Linked DNA regions of Homo sapiens: region 1 is linked to region 2. The links come from fine-mapping of genetic effects on gene expression. A gene starts in region 2. The other region holds a variant in brackets. All regions are shown on one strand. Distances are from middle to middle.

Region 1 (10,439 bases), 33 kb before region 2:
CGAAGCTGTCCATGAGGACATCCGCGTGCTCTCTGAGGACGCCATCCGCACTGCCACAGAGAAGCCGCTGGGGGAGCTATGGAAGTGACCCAAGGCTGCCCACTGGAGACGCCTCTCCCTGCAGTCCCCCGAGAGGTGGGAGACTCGCGGAAGGCCCCGTCCCCAGCAGAGTCCAGACCCCACAACTTCAGGAGCTCTTTCCCGGCAGCAGAGATCTGCAGGCTGCCTCTTCTGCCCCGGAGCTGGGGTGCACTGGGGACCCCCGTGGTGGGGACCTTGGCAGTGTGGACATGAGCAGAGCGATGGAGCAGTCTCCTGCCCTCTCCCCTGTCCTGATGGCACTCTGTTGTATTTTCTTACTGAAGTTCAGTGATAACTCTGAGCAGTTTCATTGTGATCACTGTAAATGGTAATCAGTTGGAATTCTCCTAAATGTCTTCCAGACACTAGTAAAAAACGACCTGAAAATTGTTTGTGGAACGCTTCACTTTTCTTAGACTGAGGACGGAGCTGGCTTTGAATGGGAACCTCCATCCCAGGAGAGAAGAGCCTTCATTGGGCCCAGTAGGGCCTTCCTGGACCCTGGTTCCTGCCTAGTTGAGGGAGTCCCACTGTGGGTCTGAACAGTTGCAGCCATGCCCTGGGCTCGCTGGGTCCAGCCAGGCTATATCCGAGTGTCATCACAGCTTACGTCCTGAACTCACCTAAGTTAACTCTGCTATTTTCATTGCAACCCTGGAGCTTAACTTCTCATCCTATCCTTTATTTTTTATTTTTTTGGAAACAGGGTCTCACTGTCGCCCAGGCTGGAGTGCAGTGGCACGATCGTGGCTCACTGCAGCCTTGACCTCCTGGGCTCAGGTGATCCTCCTACTTCAGCCTCCTGAGTAGCTAGGCCTACAGGCCTTCACTGTGCCTGGGTAATTTTTTTGTGGAGACAGGATTTCGCTATGTTGCCAGCCAGGCTTGTCTTAAACTCCTGGGCTCAAGTGATCTACCTGCCTTGGCCTCCCCAAAGTGCTGGGAGTACAGGCATGAGCCACCATGCCGAGCCCATTGCATCCCCTTTTAAGTGACACTTAGAAGGAATGATTTGACACTCCTGGCAGAATCTGTCCCACAGAGCACACTCCGCATAGACAGCAGCATACAGTGTGCTGGAGTAGAAGGCAGGCAGGGTCCCCCATCTGTGGGGGCAGCAGCTGTGGGTCTCAGCACCCTTCTGTGGCCAAGAGACAAACCCAGGCAAAACAAAAGGATTTCACTCTTGGGTAAGCATTGCCAGGGGCTGTGGGATGGGCCTGGGTGAGGAACCTTCAGATGAGACTTTCCTGGACTATCCAGGTGGGCCCAGTGTCATCACAGGGGCCTTTTTTTGTTGTCTTAAGACTGGGTCTCACTCTGTCATCCAGGCTGGAGTGCAGTGGTGCAATCTTGACTCACTGCAGCCTCTCTTTCCTGGGCTCAAGTGATCCACCTTAGCCTCCCAAAGTGCTGGGATTACAGGCTGGCGCCACCATGCCTGGCCCATCACGGGTCCGCATAACAGGGAGGCAGGCGGTCCGAGTCAGGAAATGAGATGCCAACAGCAAAAGCTGGAGAGATGCCATGTTGCTGGCTGTGTGGTTGGAGGAAAGAGCCATGAGCCAAGCAGTTTCTGGCATCCAGAAGCTAGAAAGGCACAGCAACGTTCTCCCCTAGAGCCCACAGCACGATATGGCTGTCTGCCCTCCGGGTCTGGAAGAGGCTGTGCTGTTCCAGGCACTGAATGTGATCATCTTTTAGAGCAGCCACAAGAAGCGAATACGAGCATCGGAGAGGCCACAAGTCCTCAGCCACCTCACCGGGGACCCAGCAGGGCCCCCTCCGATCTGGCTTTGGGCCCTTCACACCTATACCAGGGCTGCCCACAGGGATGCACTGGCCAGAGTGAGCAATGTCCTCACCAAGCCCCCTGCTGTGCCCCAGGCATGGCCTCCCACAGGCCAGGACAGTCACTGCGCACTTGGGGAAGGCTTTGCTATGATTCAAATCGAGGCAAACCCTGCAACTCCAGGCACTTCCTGTGACTTCCTCCTGCTGAAGATGGGAACCGCCATTTTACTTTCCTAAAATCCTATTTTCCTTGCACTTTTTCCTTCTAGGGTTGTATGAGGTGGCTGATGCCACGGCTGGTAGAGAGCCAGGCTGCAGGCAGGACAGGCCCCCTGCCAGGGCTGGGGACACACCTGCTCAGGGCCCCACAGCCCGCCACGCAGGCAGCCACATCCTTTACGTGTGAACGGGCTGAAACATTCACTTATTTTTTTTCTGGAACTCACATTCAATTAGAACTTAAGGAAAAAATAGACACAAGGTTTGTTTTCTACTGAAACTTATTATTTGCCATTAAGAATTGCAAACTATACTACTAAGAATGAACAACATTCTCTTCATTAAGCCTTTTTCAAAACACACGAGACAAAGCTCCCCTTTGGTCAAGGTGTCCCACACATTACCACTGCAGCTCCCAGCACAGCGGCGCACCATGAACTCGGACGTGGAGCCCAAGGAATGGAGATCGCACCAGCCTTCCCTGCTTCCCCACCCCAACTACACCCAAGGGAGAAAGGATACGAGGAAATACACTATGTCTTCAATGCTTGGGGGGCTGGGGGTGTCCTCTGCTACCAGGTGGGCCGGTCAGTGCCGACTGTCCGGCGCGCGTCCTCGGGGATCTCTGGCTCCCCGACCTACACAAGCAGCAGCAGCAGCAGCGAGTCCTGCCAACGCCGCAGTAGCTGCTCATGAGAAAAGTGCCCACGCTCCCCAAGCCCTCCTGTTTACATTTCCTAGTGGGGCAAAGATACTTTCCCAGGACAGGCAGCAGAGCAGCGGGGCAGAGTGCACTCTGGGACCCGGGACAGCAGGTTACACAGGGTCAGGCGGTGGTGGGTGCTGGAATCGGGGCTGAGGTTCTGGAAATGCCACCAGGTGATGCCACCCTGTGGTGTCTGCCCACCACACACCACAAGACTCAAGTGGTTTTCCCCTTTTGGCCCTAAACCACCTAACACCTCAGCGGCATGGGAGGGCAATTCTCAGCAAGGCAAGGACATGGGGAAGGCTCCTGGGAGAGGCACGCCGTCCACCCTCAAGCCTGGCTGTCACAGGTGGAGGCCCCGCCCCCCCCCCGTCACCACACCTGGGGAAGCTGCCACAGAATGCCACAGCACTGGAAAGGGACACTCTGAGGGCAGGCTCCAGCAGCAGCTCCAGGACAGCCAGCCGCCCTTCTGCCCAGGCCGCCCACGCTGTGTCCTGTGCACGCCATCTTCAGGTTTCCCACACACCCACTTCCTGAATACTTTTCTCCCCAAAGCAAGGAGGAACCTCGCCTTCGTTCCTCCAACCTCATCTCCCACTGAGGTAGCCCTTGGTAAGCCAGGCTGGGCAGAGAGGACACAGCGGTGGGCGCGCCCCCCTCGAGAGCAGCCCAGTCCTTGGGCGTGGGGCCGCAGTGTGGCTGCCGCTCCTCTCACGCCAGCCTGCACAGGTCTTCTGAGACTCTGACTCAGGGAGCGCCCAGAAATTCATGTCTGTGTCTGACAACTTCAAACAGGACTTTAATTCCAAACCAACCACAGAACCGGCGCCTGGGAGCAAGTGGGACTGAGGCCCAGGTGCTAACACGGGGCTGGCAGTGTCGAGAGAACACTCTGGAAGCTCCTAACAGACGGCTCCGCGTGCGGATGCACAGGCCCTGACGGGCACTCTGAGCTGGGCAGTCTGACACCAAGCAGTAAGGCCTCCCGGGCAGCGCAGCCTCAGTCCACGAGCACAGCGGGTGGCCCTCTGGGGGGAGGCAGCACGGGGCGCAGCCCTCGGCAGGCGAGCGGGCGGGATGGATGAAACGCAGCGGCACCAGGAGCCCCAGGCTCTCACAGGTGCCACCCCCGACCCCAGGATTTTCAAAGGGACAGGATTTCAAAGTCTTCATCTTCTGAGTCGAAGAATCTTTCCAGTCGCTCTACATCAGAAGAATCTAGAAGGAACAGGACATAGCGCATCAGGCATCTTGGGTGGGCCACCTGGGTGTGAGTCAAGGGCCCTTGGCGTGGGGCAGACTGAGCAGTGCCTGCTCTGCAGCCCACAGACAGCTGTCCCCATGCGGGTGTGAACAGGTCCGGGGGTTGTGCAGACCTGCGAATATGGGGGGAGGGAGCAGAGAAGAGGAGCAGGGCAGGGTGAGGAGGGCAGGGGGCGGCCGGCACAATCTCAGGCCTGAGGGGCCTCTGTCCCGCGTCTGACCCTCGTGGTCATCAGGAGTGGTTCCATTGCCATTGCCTTGTTTGTAGAGTTTCCCACAGGGAGACAGAGATGAGGAGGACGCGCTCACGGCCACTCACTTCACTGCACGAGCCCAGGCCGGCTCCTGCGGCACGCTGGCCATGGTCCGAGGGGTCTACGCCACCCATGGCCAGTGGTGCCCAAGTGAACCAGTCCCCCACCCAGGACTGCGTCACCACAGAGCCTGCATGTTCTGTCTGCTCCAGACCCCTGAGGACTCCATGGTAGCACGCCCAGCTCCACAGCGCCCGGGCAGGCAGCGCTGGTGGGGAAGACGAGGTGGGTCCTGGGCTGCTGGGCGCAAGCTTGGAGGAGGGGACGCTCCACTCCATACCTGGTCTCACAGGCGAACCACTGCCAAGTGCTCACGGCTCAGGCTCACACACACCTTAATGGTCAAAACCAAGGGGGCCAGGACTGGGGAAGCAAGGGCACAGATCGTACCTCCGAGGGACCCCACCTGGACTTGGCAGCTCTCACCTAGGGACAGGTTCAGGACGTCGGGGCAGGCCAGATGTGAAGGCTGC[A/T]GCTCCACCAGCTCAAACATGGGCAGGGCACCTCCAAGCAGAGACAGCTGTTAGTGAGACATGGCCGTTAGGTGCAGCCTCACCCCAGTGCTTGCTGCGGCCAAGAGAAAGGGGCCAGCCGGCCACAGCCAGCGGACAAACCTGTCATCCCATCTCACTGATGAGAAAACAGAGGCAGCTCCACACTAAAGGCTACACGAGAACCCAGTGTGGTGATCAACACACAGCACAGTCTGACCACCACGGCAGAGGGGGGTGGGCCACACGCACTCGGCCGGCGTAGCTCAGCACCCCATCACCACCCCCATCTCAACAGGAGACGGATGAGGACACTGGAAATCCCATTCTAAAGTCAACACGCAACATCCGTCCCCAGGGTTGTTAACTGTGTTGCCAGATGGGCAATCCAGGACGCCCCACCCTGCTCAGCTACATAGCTGTGCCAGGCGGGACAAAGCTCCCCACGGCCCAGTGAGGCTGCCTGAGACCTGGACGCAGGCCTTCGACCCCTGCACGCCCCACTGCCTGTCTCCCTGGGTGGCTCAGCTCGGCTGTGGGTGTGGGGCGGCTACAAACCTTTTTGACTTGCTGGCACCAATCATTGAAGTCATCTTCAGTCTTACAGAAAAACCCCTAAAACGAAATGACGATGAGCAGAACACGACACCCCCATCTGCAGTCGGCTAAGAGGTGGGGGCTTCCATTCCCACTGCCAGTGGCGCAGCAGAGGCCCCCAGCATGCAGGTGCTGGACATTCCAGCCTGCCTTGGCTCCTGTGGCCAGGAACGGAGCTCCGAGGGTGCCCTGTGCATGGTCCCCTGCACCAGTGCCCGGCTCCCCTCAGGCTCCACTGCGTTGCTGTGCCTTGATTCGCCCACGAGATGTTACGTGGTGTGCATCTCTCAAACCTCACCGAGTGTTCCGGGATTGGGGCAGGTTATGAGTTAGGGCCAAGTGGGGAGCTCTTCTCTCTGTGACTGTGAGGCAGGGCCGCTGGGTCTCAGCCTTCGCCCAGCAGCTCCCTGGAAGCTTGGCGGCAAAGGCCACCGAGAACTGCCCAAGGACACCGTGACACAGGGAGCCTCCTGCTGAGGAGCCAGGAGACAGGGGACCGGCCAAGGGTCACCGGCAATCACATCCTTAAAGCTGCCGCCTGTAATGACAGTCACTAGGAATTCTCAACGCTGCCAGATGCGCAGATGTTAACACAAAAAGAAACGAAATGGGGGGAGAAGCTCAAACTGGGCACTCTCTTCCCCTGAAGACACCATTCTGCCGCCTCGGCGCTGGTGTAGGAGCACTCTCCCCCGGGGACAGGGGACATTCCTCCTCCTCACGGGTGAGGACAGTTATCCCACCAGGTGGCCCCTTTGGTCTCAACTCAACGTTCACGCGTCCACTCCTCTGTCTGCGGTGGCTGGCTCTCTAGCCTGACCTGACTGTTAGAGTGCCAATCACTGTAAGCCACCAAGCTGCGTTTACAGTAACAAACATACCTAATTCTAGTTCGACGAGGAATTCGTGACTAGGTTCTGGTAAGAAGTGTGCGCCAGGCTGCGCGCAGTGGCTCACGCCTGTAATCCCAGCACTTTGGGAGGCCGAGGTGGGTGGATCATGAGGTCAGGAGATCAAGACCATCCTGGCTAACACAGTGAAAACCCGTCTCTATTAAAAATACAGAAAATTAGCCAGGCGTGGTGGCGGGTGCCTGTAGTCCCAGCTAATCCAGAGGCTGAGGCAGGAGAATGGCGTGAACCTGGGAGGCGGAGCTTGCAGTGAGCCGAGATCGTGCCACTGCACTCCAGCCTGGGCGACAGAGTGAGACTCCGTCTCAAAAACAAACAAACAAACAAAAAGTGTGAGCCACAGAGCTCCAGCCCATGTTCCCCACTACTGCCACCCTGCCCAGGAGGTGCATGGAGCGTGGTGTGCACTCTGGGGCTGCGCCACAGCTCAGAGACCGTCCCATTTCAGGCCCAGATCTGCCTTCTTCCTCCTAAATGGGGCGGAGCATCCACAACAGAGCCCCCGATTCGGTTAACTGCTTCCCTGAGCATGTCACCGTCATTCATGATTTCTAGGGGGGTTTTTTGGCCTCTTTCCCCATCAAATATATTTGAGGGCAGGCAGGTCTGCATAAATCACACACCAAAAATCACAACTAGGTAATCAAAATGGAAAAACAGGGAAGCTCCTTCTTAGGAAATCCCCCAGAGAGGTCAAGTCAGAGCCTCCGGAAAACAAAAGGTGGTGCAGGAGTGGGTGGGTGGAGGGGCCGCCCGTGTTTAAATGTGGGTGTGACGAAGGTGGTGCAGGGGTGGGTGGAGGGGCCGCCCGTGTGTTTAAATGTAGGTGTGAGGGGGACACACTCACCATGGCTCACACTCATCCATGCACACTCAGCACGCGCCCACACACGCTCACATCCAGACACACGCTCTCTGGGCCACTCGAAGGCCATGAAGGCTGCACAGGAGGTGGTGCCTGGGGGAGGGACGTGAGGGTGCAAGGACACAGTTCCGGCTCTTATACCCTTCAGATTCCCAACCACGTGAACACAGTACTTATCCCAACATGCTGAAAAAAAAAACGCAAAAATCCGAAAGTTTTCCTCGTCATTCCCAAACAGCATTCAGCACCAAATGCCTGTGTGCTCAGGTGGCCGCCACGTACCACAGCGATGGACGGGTCAAGCTCCGCGATGCTCATGCGGCACGGCGGGTGCTGGCAGTGGAAGCTCTCGTCCGGGATGAAGCAGCCATCAGTGGGCTCCACGGCTGGCTGCGTGGTGTGGGGGTCCAGGTAGATGAGCTCCTCACCTGGGAGGATGAGGCAGGTGGGCAGGTGGGTGGCCGAGCCGGCAGAGGAAAGGGACAGAGGAGGCCGCATTTCAGACCCACTGCACCCACATCACACTGAGAAGCAGTGGGCAGGAGGTGGGGAGGGAGCCGAGGGCACCAGACCATCAGGGAAAGGGGCACACAGGAGGCCGCCCGCGACCAGGCTGAAAATGAACCCCAGGGCATGCTGCTTTTCCACCAGTGGCCTCAAGTGGTCACCTGGGGTGTGGTACCTGCTCATGGAATGCCCTTAAAAGGCCCAGGCCCACAGGGACACGGTGGGAACCCTGGACTCACCAACGTAGCCGATGAAGTAGTGGGCGCTGTTGGGCTTCCCTCCGATGACGCCCAGGGACTGGGGCATCATGAAGCAGTGCTGTGGAGGGGCGGGGGACTGAGCACAGGTCCCAGGTGGGAGCAGACGGTCCCCCCACCCACTGCCATAGGGGGCCCAAGGGCCTGCTGAGGCCCAACTGGGTGACACAAGAGGGGACAGGAGGGGACATGGTACCAAAGAGCTTACTGTCCAGGAAAGACCACAGGACATCCCACAGGCACAAGAAACCCAATCTGCAGGCTCAGCTCAGGGAAGCTTCATGTCAGAGGTGGGCTTTGGGGAGGCCGGGAGTGAGGGGGCCTGGCAGGAGATGTGAGCAGGGGTGCGGGAGGTGGCCCTGCTGAGTGCTTTGACCTGACAGGGCAGAAGCGATGGAGACGGGGCCTATGTGTGGGGGCAGCTGAGACCCCACAGGATGGGCAGAAGGCTGGACGGAGGGGCCAAGTTCAGACAACTGAATAATTTTAACAGGAAGCCACATTTCAGTTCCATACAAATGTGACTCCTTGGTCTAAAATTTGAGTTACCTGAAGAAAGGATGGTTTTCCCTTCTGCTTGCTTTTTTTTTTTTTTTATTTGAGATGGAGTCTCACTCTGTCACCCAGGATGGAGTGCAATGGCATGATCTCGGGTCACTGCAAGCTCCGCCTCCTGGGTTCAAGAGATTCTCCTGCCTCAGCCTCCTGTGTAGCTGGGACTACAGGCGCGCACCACCATGCCCGGCTAATTTTTATATTTTTAGTAGAGACAGGGTTTCACCATGTTGGCCAGGCTGGTCTCAGACTCCTGACCTCGTGATCTGCCCGCTTTGCCCTCCCAAAGTGCTGGGATTACAGTCATGAGCCACCGCTCCCCGCCCCCTTTTGCTTTCATGACATGGGGGAGCCTGTGGCTGGAGCTCCTCACACAGCCCTGCCCATCCCCAGGCCCTGCCCACACGTCCCTTCCTCACAGGCCAACCCACCCTCCGAAGGGACCTCAGGCCAAGAGGGCTGTGGGGGAGTGGGGTGGGCATGCCTGGGGCACAGTGGAGACCCGGGAGGGGGCGGGGCTCCCCGTCAGGCCGAGGAGTGGCACCTGGTTCCAAGGACCCCCTGCAAGCGCCTCATGCTTTCATCCTCGACACTCGCCTTGACACTTGCAGAACGAAAGCAGCACGTGCCTACTGATGGACGTGCCTCACGCCCACTCACCCCTTGGGCAACGGTGTAAACCAGGGTTGTTTACCCCTCCCCCGAGAGCCGGCTGCACAAATGGCCACGTGACGACGATGCGCTGAAAGTGACTAAGAACTGGGAGAAGGGGACGGGGACTCAGGGCAAGCGCCGCACGGCAGGACCCACCTTCAGCGTCTCCACGTAGGCCTCGTTGATGTCCGTGAGCCCCAGGCGCAGGGGAATGAGAAGTACCAGGGGTCTCCATGGCGACGGCCTGTTGGTGACCTCAGCTCCGGCAGGGAATCCGTTGCAGTGCCGGTCGGAATCTGCAGGAAACGCAGTGGCGCCTGCACAGGGAACGCTGGTCCTGCACAACCTTCCTAGAAAGGGAGACATGCTTTCACTAACCAAGCAGACCTGTGCAAAAGTGCTCCCACAACAAGCAAGCAAATGATGACTGTGTAACAGAAAAAGGGCGGTACAAAGCCAGGTGCTTACAGTGAAATTCAAACTTGGAAAATATAGAAAAGCGTAAGAAAATTTTTTCATAATCTTGCCACCCAGAGAAAAAAGAAATAGTTTCTATGCATACTTAATTCAAGAGTTTTATTGTGAAATAAAGCACACACACGAAACAGTGCAAGAAAAAGCCACGTGCACTTGAGAGGAAAATCACAGAAGTACCCACGCAGCCTGCCAGCCTGGCTAGTGCCAGCACAGCCAGAACCCGCTCCCTCCGGGCCTCCTCAGCAACGCCTTTCCTCGCTTCCACCCCTTCTGCCTACACACACCCGTGAGTCAATGGTCCGGAGGACACATCAACCGGAGGGTGCGGTGATGGGAGAAGACACTCCGGGAGCATGGAGCATGCCCGGCGTCTAGATCGAGGTTTCTCAACACCACTCCCCACTCAGAGGAGCCAGGCTGATTCCAGGGCCAGGCAGGGAATGTTCAGAGGTGCCTGCAGCATCTGCTTAACCCAGAACATAAGGGAGGGCTCAAAACATAAACGAAAAACGCCAGAACACGGCAAAAGACACCACCAGACTGAGGTGGCCACCGGCCAAAGGTGGAACCGTCAAGCATCAAAAAGATGGACAGTGACAGGTGACAGTGACAGTGACAGGTGACAGTGACTGACAGGTGACAGACAGGTGACAGGTAGCACACTGCACACTAAGTGATGGGAGAAAAGGCGGCTCTTCTCAGAACGCCAACCAATAAACGTGAAAGGAAAGGACAGGCTAGA
Region 2 (12,436 bases):
AGCTCACTGCAACCTCCCCCTTCCGGCCTCAAGGGATCCTCCCACCTCAGCCTCCTGAGTAGCTGGGACTACAGGCATGCACCGTCATGCCTAATTTTTGTATTTTTTGTAGAGGTGGGGTTTCCCTATGTTAAGCAGGCTGGTCTCAAACTCCTGGGCTCCAGTGATCCACCCACCTCAGCCTCCCAAAGTGCTGGGACTACAAGTGTGAGCCACCACACTTGTTCCTTCACTGACTCTCAGATGTATGAGATCCACTTAGGCCTGACACCAGCTGCCTCAGCAATTCGCCATGGAGAGGTTCCCTTGTCTTATTTCATAGCCCCTGTCATAATTTCATCATCTTCCCGTGCCACATCATGTGATTTATAAGGTAATTCATGTAGCTCCTGATAGAAAAGGAGTCAAACTTCGGAAAAAATATCCACTCGCCGGGTGCAGTGGCTCACACCTGTAATCCCAGCACTTTAGGAGGCCAAGGTGGGTGGATCACCTGAGGTCAAGGGTTCAAGACCAGCCTGGCCAACATGGCAAAACCCCGTTGCAGTGAGCCGAGATCACGCCACTGCACTCCAGCCTGGACGACGGGGGGGGGGGAAAATATATACATACACACACACACACACACGTATATATATATTTATACATATATGTGTATATATTTATGTGTATATATACGTATATATATGTTTATATATATATGTACATATATACATAAATAAATATATAGACCCATCTCTAGACTTCCAGGTAATGATATTAATTTGAAATAAGATGACATGTAAGGCCAGGTGCCGTGGCTCATGCCTGTAATCCCAGCACTTTAAGAAGCCAAGATGGGAGGATCACTTGAGCCCAGGAGTTTGAGACCAGCCTGGGCAATACAGGGAGACCCTGTCTCTCTTAAAAAAAAAAAAAAAAAAAAAATAGCTAGGCGTGGACATCTGTAGTCTTAGCTACTGAGGAATGTGAGGCAAGAAGATCACTTGAGCCCAGGAGGTCAAGGCTGCAATGAGCTGAGGCCGCAACACCATACTCCAGTCTGAGCGATGAAGTGAGACCCTGCCTCAAAAAAAGATGACACGCAGGAGGAACAAGATGAAGAAGTAGGTTGGGTGTGGTGGTTCACCTGTAATCCCAGCACTTTGGGAGGCCGAGGCGGGCAGATCACTTGAGGTCAGAAGTTCGAGAACAGCCTGGCCAACATGGTGAAACCCCATCTCTACTAAAAATATAAAAAAGTTAGCCAGGCATGGTGGTGCACACCTGTAATCCCAGCTACTCGGGAGGCTGAGGCAGGAGAATCTCTTGAACCCAGGAGGCGAAGGCTGCAGTGAGCTGAGATAGAGCCACTGCACTCCAGCCAGTCTGGGCGACAGTGAGACTCCGTCTTAAAAAAAAAAAAAAAAAAAAAAAAAAGGACGGAGAGGTGCTGTACACCTTAAGAAAGAGTCCCCCTTAGAAGCAGTTCTCCCATTTGGTCGGCTGGATCCCAGACACTTGATTTTCCACGCCCTCTTCCCTGGGACTTCTGCGATCACAAGCAGAAGAGGGCAGATGGCATTTTAATAATATAGTAATTCCATCAGAAAAAACATGTGACTTAGTACTACTAATCTGACAGGCAGAAATGTAGGGAATTGTACTCAATGAATTTAACCAACTTCTCTCCATTTAGTACCAATTACACTTCATTCAACCAGAGAGGACTACAAAAAAAAACGAGTAAATTTAAGAGCTTACTGTAAACCACTTCATTTCGAAGAAACCTTCCTAAAACACTTAGAAGTTATTTTCCAAAAGATTTATATTTTATAAATTCAACAAAGGTTCTTCTTTTCCTTTAGAAAGCTCTTAGGTTTAAGATAACAGTTTGCATATGATTACTACTTTTTTTTAAATCTCCAAGAGTTTACATGAGAATGCTAGTAGTTCAGTCCTGAATGAAAACAGAGAAAGAGAGAAAGGAACTCCAAATTTAGCTACATCAGAAAGCTAGAAAACACTGTTTCAGTGCACACACTGGGCAGATTGCGCACATTAAAACCCACTCCCCTAGATCGCGCCCACCGCACTCCAGCCTGGGAAACAGAGCAAGACTCCATCTCAAGAAAAAAAAAAAAACCACTCCCCAGCAGCCTCTGCATTCATTACATGTTATGCTAACATACTGGATTTATGTTAAACTCTACAAACTGAAAGCTTTGATAGTAGGGGAATGTGTAGGTTATTATTAATTCAAGTTCTGTTTTTTTTTTATTACCAACCACATGCCAGACACAAGTGATGCACTAGAAATGCAAGCACAAGACACCAGCTCTGTCCTCAAGGAATGGGCAGTGTGGCTATTTAAGTGCTGGCACCTGCCAGTCGTCTGAATGGGGAGCATGCTTTTAGGGACAGTGCTAGGGACTGGTGGAGAACACAGCCACACTGTGGTCTGCCTGCCACCTCCTGGACCTCTCCACACCCGCAGAGGCCTTTGGCCTCTTTTCTTTCCCACCCACATTCACACCCTGGGTGACCTCATCTGATGTGACCTCCAGTCTATCTCCAGCCCAGGCTTATTCTTTTAGCTCCAAACCTGTAGACCCAAAAGCCCACTGGACACTGCTCTACAAGGATGTCTAACATCCACCTCACATTCAACACACATAAATCCAAACTCGCAACAGAAAGCTTCCCACCAGACAGGACCTCCCCAAGTCTTCCCCATCTGAGTTTCTTTTTTTTTTTTTTTTTGAGACAGAGTCTCGCTCTGTCGCCCAGGCTGGAGTGCAGTGGCGCAGTCTTGGCTCACTGCAAGCTCCGCCTCCCGGGTTCACGCCATTCTCCTGCCTCAGCCTCCTGCGTAGCTGGGATCACAGGCGCCCGCCACTATGCCCGGCTAATTTTTTGTATTTTTAGTAGCGACGGGGTTTCACCGTGTTAGCCAGGATGGTCTCGATCTCCTGACCTTGTGATCCGCCCACCTCGGCCTCTCAAAGTGCTGGGATTACAGGCGTGAGCCACCACGCCCGCCCCCCTCCATCTGAGTTGCTTAGCTCAGGCCATACACTATGGGGCCATCTTTAACTCCTCCCTCTCTACCCATCCCTCTCCCAACTTCCAATCTACAAACAAATTCTATTGTCTCAACCTCCAAAACACATGCAGAAGTCAACCTCTTACCCACCCTGAGCTAATCCACTGGCATCTCCTTGCTGGCTTGTTCAACAGTCTCTTAGCTGGTCTCGCTGCCTCTGCCCTTGCCCCTCTGCAGTACATTCTCAAAAGAGATGCCAGAGCAAGCCTGTTGAACACAGTCTATCATGTGACTCCTCCTCTAGAATGAAACCTTCCAAACGGCTGCCATCCTGTTCAGAATAAACACTGAGTCCTCACTATGAGCTGCCATCCTGTTCAGAATAAACACCGAGTCCTCACTATGAGCTGGCAAGGCCCCACTACACTGAGCCTAAGTCACCTTTCTATCCTCAGCTCCTGCTTCTCCCACCGCCACCCGCTGCACCTGAGCCACACCAGGCTCTTGCTACCTGCCCTTCCTCCTACACTGCTTTAAGTCTTCGTCAAAACTTAAACCTTCAGAGTGAGACCCTTCCTGGCCATCCTGGCTACAATTCCAATCCTCCTCATCCTTGGCCCAAATCACCATCCCCCAGGAGCCACGCACTTCGCTGCTAATGCTGGTCTCATGTCTAGAACGTTAGCTACCCCAGGGCAATGGTTTTCATCTATGTTGTTACTTCTCTAGTCCTAGTGTCTAGAACAATGCCTAACACATATCTGACAGTCAGTAACAAACAGTGTATTGAATTAATGACTATCAGAACAGAAACTGTATTACACATGGTCAAGGAAGGCAGAATCTTCAAGAACTCTAGAGATCAAAGGAGGGCAGATCATTAATCATCTCTGAAAGGAAATACAGCATCAAGTCAGAAGGAAAATTCCCCATGATATCCTACAAACATCATATACGTTTTTATCAGCATAAACAGAGACCTTTAAATGCAAACACCTTTTCTACTCTGATCCCACATGCAGCAACATCCAGTGTCCTATTAAAGTATCACCATGTCAACACAGTTGTCAAGGGAAAATAAAAGATAAAATAAAGTATCGCCATGTAACAACATAACTGTTCTCCCAACTTGAACATGATGATTTTCACATTTTAGGTCATATGATCGACACTGAACCGTGTTTTTGACCTTAGCCAAGTCTCTCATATGATACTCCAGCCTCAAGGTATCGAAATGATAGAGGCAGGAGGCAGACAAATCCTAGGCAGAGAGGGGTGGGTCACCAGTGAAACCCAACCTTCAAGCCACAGTTTAAAGCCTGAAAGCCAAGCGACGAGTCTCGGATAAATCCACAGACTGGATTGCGAACCTCTCTTCCTGTTTGGTGCGCTTTCCTCTAATTAATCCCCACCCTTCACCTATTTTACATATACCTACTTTTCTCTAATTGGTTTATTACACTGTTGTGCCCACCTTTGAGTAGTGACTTTGTTTTAACCTTTTTTGCATACTCACAGACAAATCAGCACACACTCCCCATTCTGAGCCTATAAAAGCCCTGGACCCAGCCACACCAAGGGAGACCACCCGACTTTGGGTGGAAGACCACCCTTGAGTCCCCTCTCTGCTGAGGGGTGTTTCATCACTCAATAAAACTATTCTCCACCCTCCTCACCCTTCGATTGTCAGTGTTAAGTGTAGTCTCATTCTTCTTGGACGTGGGACAAGAACTAGGGACCCAATGAATGCAAGTACAAAGAAGGCTGTAACACTGTGGCCCTGGGCCCTCTGCCGGCAAAGGGCAGCCACCCACTGTGACACCCCACGTGACAGGAGGCAGCAAAGGGAAGCAGCGGGGACGGAGCCAGCCCCAGAGCTATAGCCTGGAGCAGGGCAATGGGAGTAACAGGGCTGCTGACACTCTGCAACACCCCCTCTTGGGCTTCAGGGTTGTAAGCACCCCTGCTTGGGCGCCACTACCTTCCCCTTGTCTGGACACCAGAATCCACTGTCCCTTTGTCTGGACGCTGGAGTCCGCCGTGGGAGTTGCTTGCCACATGTCTAGCTGTAAGCTCTGCAGAGCCCACTCTGGTGCCTGCGCTTGAAACAGCTGGCGGGACCCGGCACTCACTCACCCACACACCCACTCCCGCCAGGGGCTGAGCATACAGTCATGGTGGCCATGGTATCCGTGCCATAGTGCAAACCAGGTGCCCACCGGTGGACCAAGTAGATGGGGTATCTCCTGCGGCGAGCCTGGACCCAAGCAAGGCCTGGGCAGGGGCCTCGCCAGCCGGAGGTCTCTGGCTGCCAGAGTGGCTGAGAAAAATCCTGCATCACAAACAATAACACCTAAAAAGATATAATACAACAGTTGTAAAATAGTAAACAACAAATAGTACACAGCTGCAAATAGTTCAACCGTGAATGACGGTTATTCTAAAAGACAAACTTCACAAGATATACACCTGGTCAACATGCTCCTTAGGGAGTCAGGGCTCCTGTTTCCTCCAGCCACCTACCACATTTAAGTGGTGAGCTGCTACAAATCATTTTAATAGATATTGGCAATACACATTACAGTTTTCCAACTCAGATCTTAATAAATTTATGTTGTAGCTACCAGAAAAATAAAAAGTAAAAACAATCCCATTCAGAATGACAGAATTAAACCAGATGAAAATCTTTCTTTACAGATGGGGGATACTTGGTAAAAGGCAAATCAGTTCCCACAAAGAATGAATGAGCTAAAACTTCTGTGTAAAAATATTTCTAGGGCTACTGGGCTAGCGATGGGTTTGGCGCTGACTTAAAATAATCTTGCTAGCAAAAATGGAGCGGAAGCATGAAAGGATAGGAAAAAAACCAACACTCCCTATACACACACACACACACTCCTTCTCTTTCTCTCTCTCTTAGGACCCCAAGAAACTAAGACCCGATGATACAAATTCACTGTTTCTCTTTCTCGTCACGGAAAAGCAGCTTGGAGAATCTACTGGTTACTAAATTGAAGACAAAAACAAAAAAGATACGTATACTGTGATGAACACGTCACGTTTCTCTCCTCCAACCTACCAATAACTTCATAAAAGTTAAAGAGCTTCCATCCCTTCACGCTCAGCTGCGGAAAGGCTACGCTTTCGCCCGCCGCTCGCGTCCCCGGCCCGGACCGCGGCCGCCCCGTTCGCCGCCGCGCCTCTCCCCGCCCGGCAGGCTCCGCCGCCCTCCACGGCCGACCTGGCGCAAGGGCCTGTGCAGCCACAACCTCCGGAGCGCTCCGGACGGGACCGGAAAAGCAGAAGCTCCAGCGCAACCGACGGCGGGTTCCGCGGCGCAGTGCGCCGCCGTCCCCCTCCCGCTCCCACCGCCCACCACCCACCAACACCGCCCCGCGCTCCCGCAGCGCCCGCCGCCCCGGCCCAGCCTGGCCCGCACCGGCGTGCCCCGAGGCGAGTCGCGGCAGCCCGACCCGAGCAGGGGAGGCCAATGATAAGGCGAGCACCTCCTGCGGAAAGACCGACCCCCGGCAACTCCTCACCTGCGTCCATCTTCCCAGTCCGGCCGCCGACTGACCCGAGCGGCGTCGCTCCGACGGGCCAGCAACGCGACGCGGCGACGGGACGCCGCGGGGGCCAATAGGTGTGCCGGCGCAGGCGGCGAAGACGATACGGCGCGCGAGCGGAAATACGCGGGAGCCGCCATTTTGGCGTACGGCCGGGCCGACGCGAGCCCCGGGGCGCCCTGCGGGCGGCATGGGGTCGTGTCGTGGGACGACGGCTGGTTCTGCTGTCCGACGGGACACTGTGTGCCATGGGTGGCGCTTCCTCCTCTTAGAGGACCCAGGAGCAGTTGTCGAGGCGGCAGAGGCGAGCTCTGTCCCCGTCCGAGCAGCCATCTTGCGGTACGGACGTGCTCGGCGCGCCCATGTCGCGGTACGGACTTGCCCCGCCGGGGCGACTCCCCCGCCCGTCTGCCCGCCTGCCGACGGACGCTGCGAGGGGCCTGCGGCGCCCCGCTGGTCCGAAGACGCCCGAACCCGCGGCTGGCGAGGACGCGGGCGGGGGCTGGGGCGGGGGCGGGCCCGCTGCGGGCGCCTGCGCCTCCATCTTGCCGTACGGCGCGGACGCCGCGGGCCGGCCCACGTCCCGAGCCGTGTCGCCGCCGCGCTCCCTCCCTCGGGGCGGTCCGCGGGCGGGCGGGCGGCTAGGGCCGGGGCCTGGCTGCGCGGCTGGGCCAAGGCCCGCGATGGTGATCTGCTGTGCGGCCGTGAACTGCTCCAACCGGCAGGGAAAGGGCGAGAAGCGCGCCGTCTCCTTCCACAGGTACGCGGGCCCCGGGCCGCCACGCCCCCGCCCCGACCCGGCCCTGCGGGGAAACTGAGGCCCCGCGGCCGGCCCGAACGCGGGGGGCGGGGGCGCCGGGCCTCGGCGGCCGGGGCGCGGGGGAGCGGGCGTGGGCGCTGTGTGACCTTGGCCCGGCCGCCGTCTCTGGGCCGGGCGCCTCGGGCAGCGCAGCCGCCCCCACCCCGGCCGCCTGGGTCCGCCCTGCGCGCGATCGATCCGGCCGGCGCCTAGGCTTCAGAAGCCGCACGCTCTGGAAGCGCAGGTCCTGGGCCGATTGTCCTGCTCGGCCGCGACTGCTGACTCTCCGGACCGCGCGGGCCGTCGGCCTGGATGTCTGCGAGCAGGAGCGACCGGGCAGACGCGACCTGCGCCTCCGTAGCTGACAGCCCCCGAGAGGGCTTTCCGGGACTGGGCCCCCGAGCCCAGGACGCGGGTACGCGCGGAGAGTCTACGGGACGGCCGGCTGGGGACGGCATCCTCCTGCGCTCCCTTAGAGCCTGGCCCGGGGCTCTCGGCCGCTTCCCACGTGGGCCCCCGCGGCAGGGCCCAAACCCCTCTAAGGCCTTGTGAGTTCAGCCTATTTCAGTGAGATTTCTGCGGATTACACGCGGGAGGCACCAGAACCGCGAACAGACTTTAAAAACCACTTTGGAGATGTTTCTGTTTTATGTTGCATGGTGTTATTTAAGTTTTAAAGACGGGAATGGCACGTGTTATTTATAGGGTTATTGAAAGTTCACAGTAGTTTGCTGTAAGTCTTAAATCATTACAATGTATTATAAGAATTAGTAACATTAGATTATTTCACAAGTCAGCCAGCGCACTTTCTTGACAATTTCCTTCAGAGCTTGTGTCCTAGAAGTTTTGTTATTGTTTTTTGAAAACGAGGCAACGTGTTGCAACGGTCTAACATGGTATGGGAGGAAAGGACATCGGAATTGGGGGTGGGGGGGTACCTTTGCAGTTGGCCTCACAGTGTTCAGAAAGGAGGTTAGAAGGTCCTGTTGCTTAGAACGGCCCAGTCCATCCTGTTAGGATTTGTCCTGGTCCACACTGGCCTCAGGTGGAGCAAATAGCAGTTAGAACTGACCACCCTGTCCCTTATGTGCACATTAGGGCCTGGTTTTTTTTTCTTTTTTTCTCTTTTTTTTGAGAAGGAGTCTCCCTCTGTCGCCCAGGCTGGAGTGCATTGGTGCGATCTCGGCTCACTGCAACCCCCGCTCCTGGGTTCAAGCTATTCTCCTGCTTCAGCCTCCCAAGTAGCTGGGATTACAGGCAAGCGCCACCACGCCTGTCTAATTTTTTTGTATTTTTAGTAGAGACAGGGTTTCACCATATTGGCCAGGCTGGTCTCGAACTCTGGCCTCAAAGTCCTGACCTCAAGTGATCCACCCGCCTCGGCCTCCCAAAGTGCTGGGATTACAGGCATAAGCCACCCCGCCCGGCCCAGGCCTATGTTCTTAAACACAGAGTTTGCCTTAATGAAGAAATGGTTATGAAGGATCTTTATTAGGTAATAAAGAAATGACTAAACATCCTATTCAGTATCTTCCTGCGCTGGTTGCTTTTTTCTCACCATTTTTAAATTATGGTATAATACATGTAACATGAAATTTACCATCCTAACTTTTTTTGGAGACAGAGTCCCACTCTGTCACCCAGGCTGGAGTGCAATGGTATGACCGTAGCTCACTGCAGCCTCAGCCTCCTGGACCCAAGTGGTCCTCCCATCTCAGCCTCCAGAGTAGCTGGGATCACAGGCATGAGCCACGGCTCCCAGCCTTTCCTACCGCTTTTTCAGTGTACAATTCATGGCAACAAATACATTCACGTTGTTGTGCAGCTGTCACTACCATCCACCTCCAGAATTATTTTTATTTTGTAAAGCGGAATCTCTGGACTCATTAAACATTAATACCCCAGTCCTCCTCTCCCTAGGCTCTGGGAACCCGCATTCTCCTGTCTCTATGAATTTGATTACTCTGAGTACCTCATGTGAGTGGTATCATGCAGTGTTTGTTTTTTTGCACCTGCCCTATTTCATTCAGTATAATGTCCTCAAGGATCATCTGAGTTGGTTGATTTTTTTTGAGGGGAGAAGACCGGGTTTCACTCTGTTCCCCAGGATGGGGAGCAGTGGTGCAGTCTTAGCTCACTGTAACTTCGAATTTCTGGGCTCAAAGAACCCTCAAGCCTCAGGCTCCCAAGTAACTGGAACTGCAGGTGAGCACCATTGTGCCCTGTCCCTGGGCTGGTTGACTTTTAAAAGGAGCATTTTTACTCCTGGAGGTGGGCATGCAACAGGAACACAGAACTGTAGCTCTGGAGTCTTCTGGAGGTCTCCAGATTCTCAGCTGCTTGCGCACAGCCAGGGCTGCCTCCATGCAGTCCTGACCTCTCACGCCCTAGTGTCTGTGGATGCTGGCCCTGGTTTTGGTACCCAGAGTCCTACCTTCCAGGCAAGTTGGGAGGGTTGGTTAGCAGTCAGCTTCTAGGAGCTATTTCCTGCTGTCCTGAGGCCATCCTGGCACTGTCTGTCAGCATCCTGTGTCCCCATTGGGCATTTACCACAGCCTGGGGAGCAGTTGGTTACCTTCTTTCCCATCCGCCCTACAGACTATAAGCTCTGTATGGGTAGACAACGGGTCTTTCAGATTTCTACTCCAGTAATAACTGCAGGTAGAAGATGTTCTTTAAATCTTTTTGAAGTATTTTTTTAAGTGGATGAAGTCAATACGGCTTAGGGTGCGTGCAAAAATACTTGTTTTGCTTTTACAGTTGATTATTTTAAGGGGAGACATTTAATTATTTCTAATTACTTTTTGTCATTTGTCCTGTAGGTTCCCCCTAAAGGACTCAAAACGTCTAATCCAATGGTTAAAAGCTGTTCAGAGGGATAACTGGACTCCCACTAAGTATTCATTTCTCTGTAGTGAGCATTTCACCAAAGACAGCTTCTCCAAGAGGCTGGAGGACCAGCATCGCCTGCTGAAGCCCACGGCCGTGCCATCCATCTTCCACCTGACCGAGAAGAAGAGGGGGGCTGGAGGCCATGGCCGCACCCGGAGAAAAGATGCCAGCAAGGCCACAGGGGGTGTGAGGGGACACTCGAGTGCCGCCACCAGCAGAGGAGCTGCAGGTTGGTCACCGTCCTCGAGTGGAAACCCGATGGCCAAGCCAGAGTCCCGCAGGTTGAAGCAAGCTGCTCTGCAAGGTGAAGCCACACCCAGGGCGGCCCAGGAGGCCGCCAGCCAGGAGCAGGCCCAGCAAGCTCTGGAACGGACTCCAGGAGATGGACTGGCCACCATGGTGGCAGGCAGTCAGGGAAAAGCAGAAGCGTCTGCCACAGATGCTGGCGATGAGAGCGCCACTTCCTCCATCGAAGGGGGCGTGACAGATAAGAGTGGCATTTCTATGGATGACTTTACGCCCCCAGGATCTGGGGCGTGCAAATTTATCGGCTCACTTCATTCGTACAGTTTCTCCTCTAAGCACACCCGAGAAAGGCCATCTGTCCCCCGAGAGCCCATTGACCGCAAGAGGCTGAAGAAAGATGTGGAACCAAGCTGCAGTGGGAGCAGCCTGGGACCCGACAAGGGCCTGGCCCAGAGCCCTCCCAGCTCATCACTTACCGCGACACCGCAGAAGCCTTCCCAGAGCCCCTCTGCCCCTCCTGCCGACGTCACCCCAAAGCCAGCCACGGAAGCCGTGCAGAGCGAGCACAGCGACGCCAGCCCCATGTCCATCAACGAGGTCATCCTGTCGGCGTCAGGGGCCTGCAAGCTCATCGACTCACTGCACTCCTACTGCTTCTCCTCCCGGCAGAACAAGAGCCAGGTGTGCTGCCTGCGGGAGCAGGTGGAGAAGAAGAACGGCGAGCTGAAGAGCCTGCGGCAGAGGGTCAGCCGCTCCGACAGCCAGGTGCGGAAGCTACAGGAGAAGCTGGATGAGCTGAGGAGAGTGAGCGTCCCCTATCCAAGTAGCCTGCTGTCGCCCAGCCGCGGTCAGTACCGGAGCCTCGCGTACCCATGTTCCCTTCCCGTTAGGAGGGGTTTCTCTGCAAGGTGGCCAGCGTCCCCTGAGCATTTCTGGGAGGTGTCACAAGCTCCCTGCGCTCTCAGGAGGAAGCTCTGGTCGTAACCATACCTTGTGGATGAGGGAATCCAGGTTAGAAAGCAGGCCTCACTGCACCTGGTCCCACAAGAGGCATCTGTGTGTGTAGGGATGTAGGCCGTGAAGGAGGCAGGCAGCACGCGTCAGCCAGGAGTGCCTGAACGCCTCCGTGGAGAGTGCACAGGGAAAGATAGCTTCTGTTTCATACCTTATGCAACAGAAATTCCAGATGAGTTAGGAACTAGATGGAAAATAAGAGAGTAAACTCTCAGAAAAAGCAAATATCAGAAACTGTTAAAATCATGAGGAGGTTCTTTCTGTTCACGTTTTAAGGAATATCCTTGAAGTTAAATCATCATGAACATTAATAATTATTTTAACATCTATTCAATTAAAACATCTGTTGAGGCTGGACTCGGTGGCTCACACCTGTAATCCCAGTACTTTGGGAGGCTAAGGTGGGCAGATCACTTGAGGTCAGGAGTTCGAGACCACCCTGGCCAATATGGTGAAACATACAAAAACATACTACTAAAACATACAAAAACTAGCTGCACATGGTGGTGCACGCTTGTAATCCCAGTTATTGGGGAGGCTGGGGCAGGTGGATTGCTTGAACCTGGGAGGCAGAGGTTGCTGTGAGCCAGGATTGCACCACTTCACTCTGGCCTGGGTGACAGAATAAGACTCTGTCTCCAAAAAAAAAAGACACACATCTATTGAAACACATTCTCAGCCGGGCATGGTGGCACACTCCTGTAATGCCAGCTACTCAGGAGGCTGAGGCAGGAGAATAGCTTGAACCTGGGAGGCGGAGGTTGCAGTGAGCTGAGATGGCACCACTGCACTACTCTTTGTCAGCCTGCGTGACAAAGAGCACAACTCTGTCTCAAAAGAGAAAAAAAAAAAAAAAGAAATACAATACATTCTCTGTTGCAAAAATTAAAACTG

The links.
Region 1: its variant is fine-mapped to the expression of ATG4B in whole blood (TOPMed, PIP above 0.99).

Annotation. Positions count from the first base shown.
Region 1 is chr2:241,665,776-241,676,214 of GRCh38, reverse strand. It overlaps ATG4B (autophagy related 4B cysteine peptidase), which reads right to left. Exons shown (of 13, transcript NM_013325.5): 8 at 9,377-9,570; 9 at 7,994-8,072; 10 at 7,530-7,675; 11 at 5,433-5,489; 12 at 4,810-4,903; 13 at 2,358-4,024. The coding sequence ends at 3,951. It overlaps DTYMK (deoxythymidylate kinase), which reads left to right. Exons shown (of 5, transcript NM_012145.4): 5 at 1-468. The coding sequence ends at 88. Among named protein-coding and RNA genes, the nearest start is that of DTYMK, 16 kb to the left of the region's middle. RefSeq lists enhancers at 7,030-7,529, 7,530-8,031, 10,126-10,439. The variant A/T (reference allele first, on the strand shown) is at 4,857.
Region 2 is chr2:241,631,856-241,644,291 of GRCh38, reverse strand. It overlaps ATG4B (autophagy related 4B cysteine peptidase), which reads right to left and starts at 6,599. Exons shown (of 13, transcript NM_013325.5): 1 at 6,568-6,599. The coding sequence starts at 6,577. It overlaps THAP4 (THAP domain containing 4), which reads left to right and starts at 7,134. Exons shown (of 6, transcript NM_015963.6): 1 at 7,134-7,351; 2 at 10,213-11,375. The coding sequence starts at 7,275. RefSeq lists enhancers at 5,118-5,651, 6,051-6,978 and silencers at 6,142-6,281, 6,322-6,511, 6,532-6,581, 6,952-7,301, 7,332-7,401 and 1 more.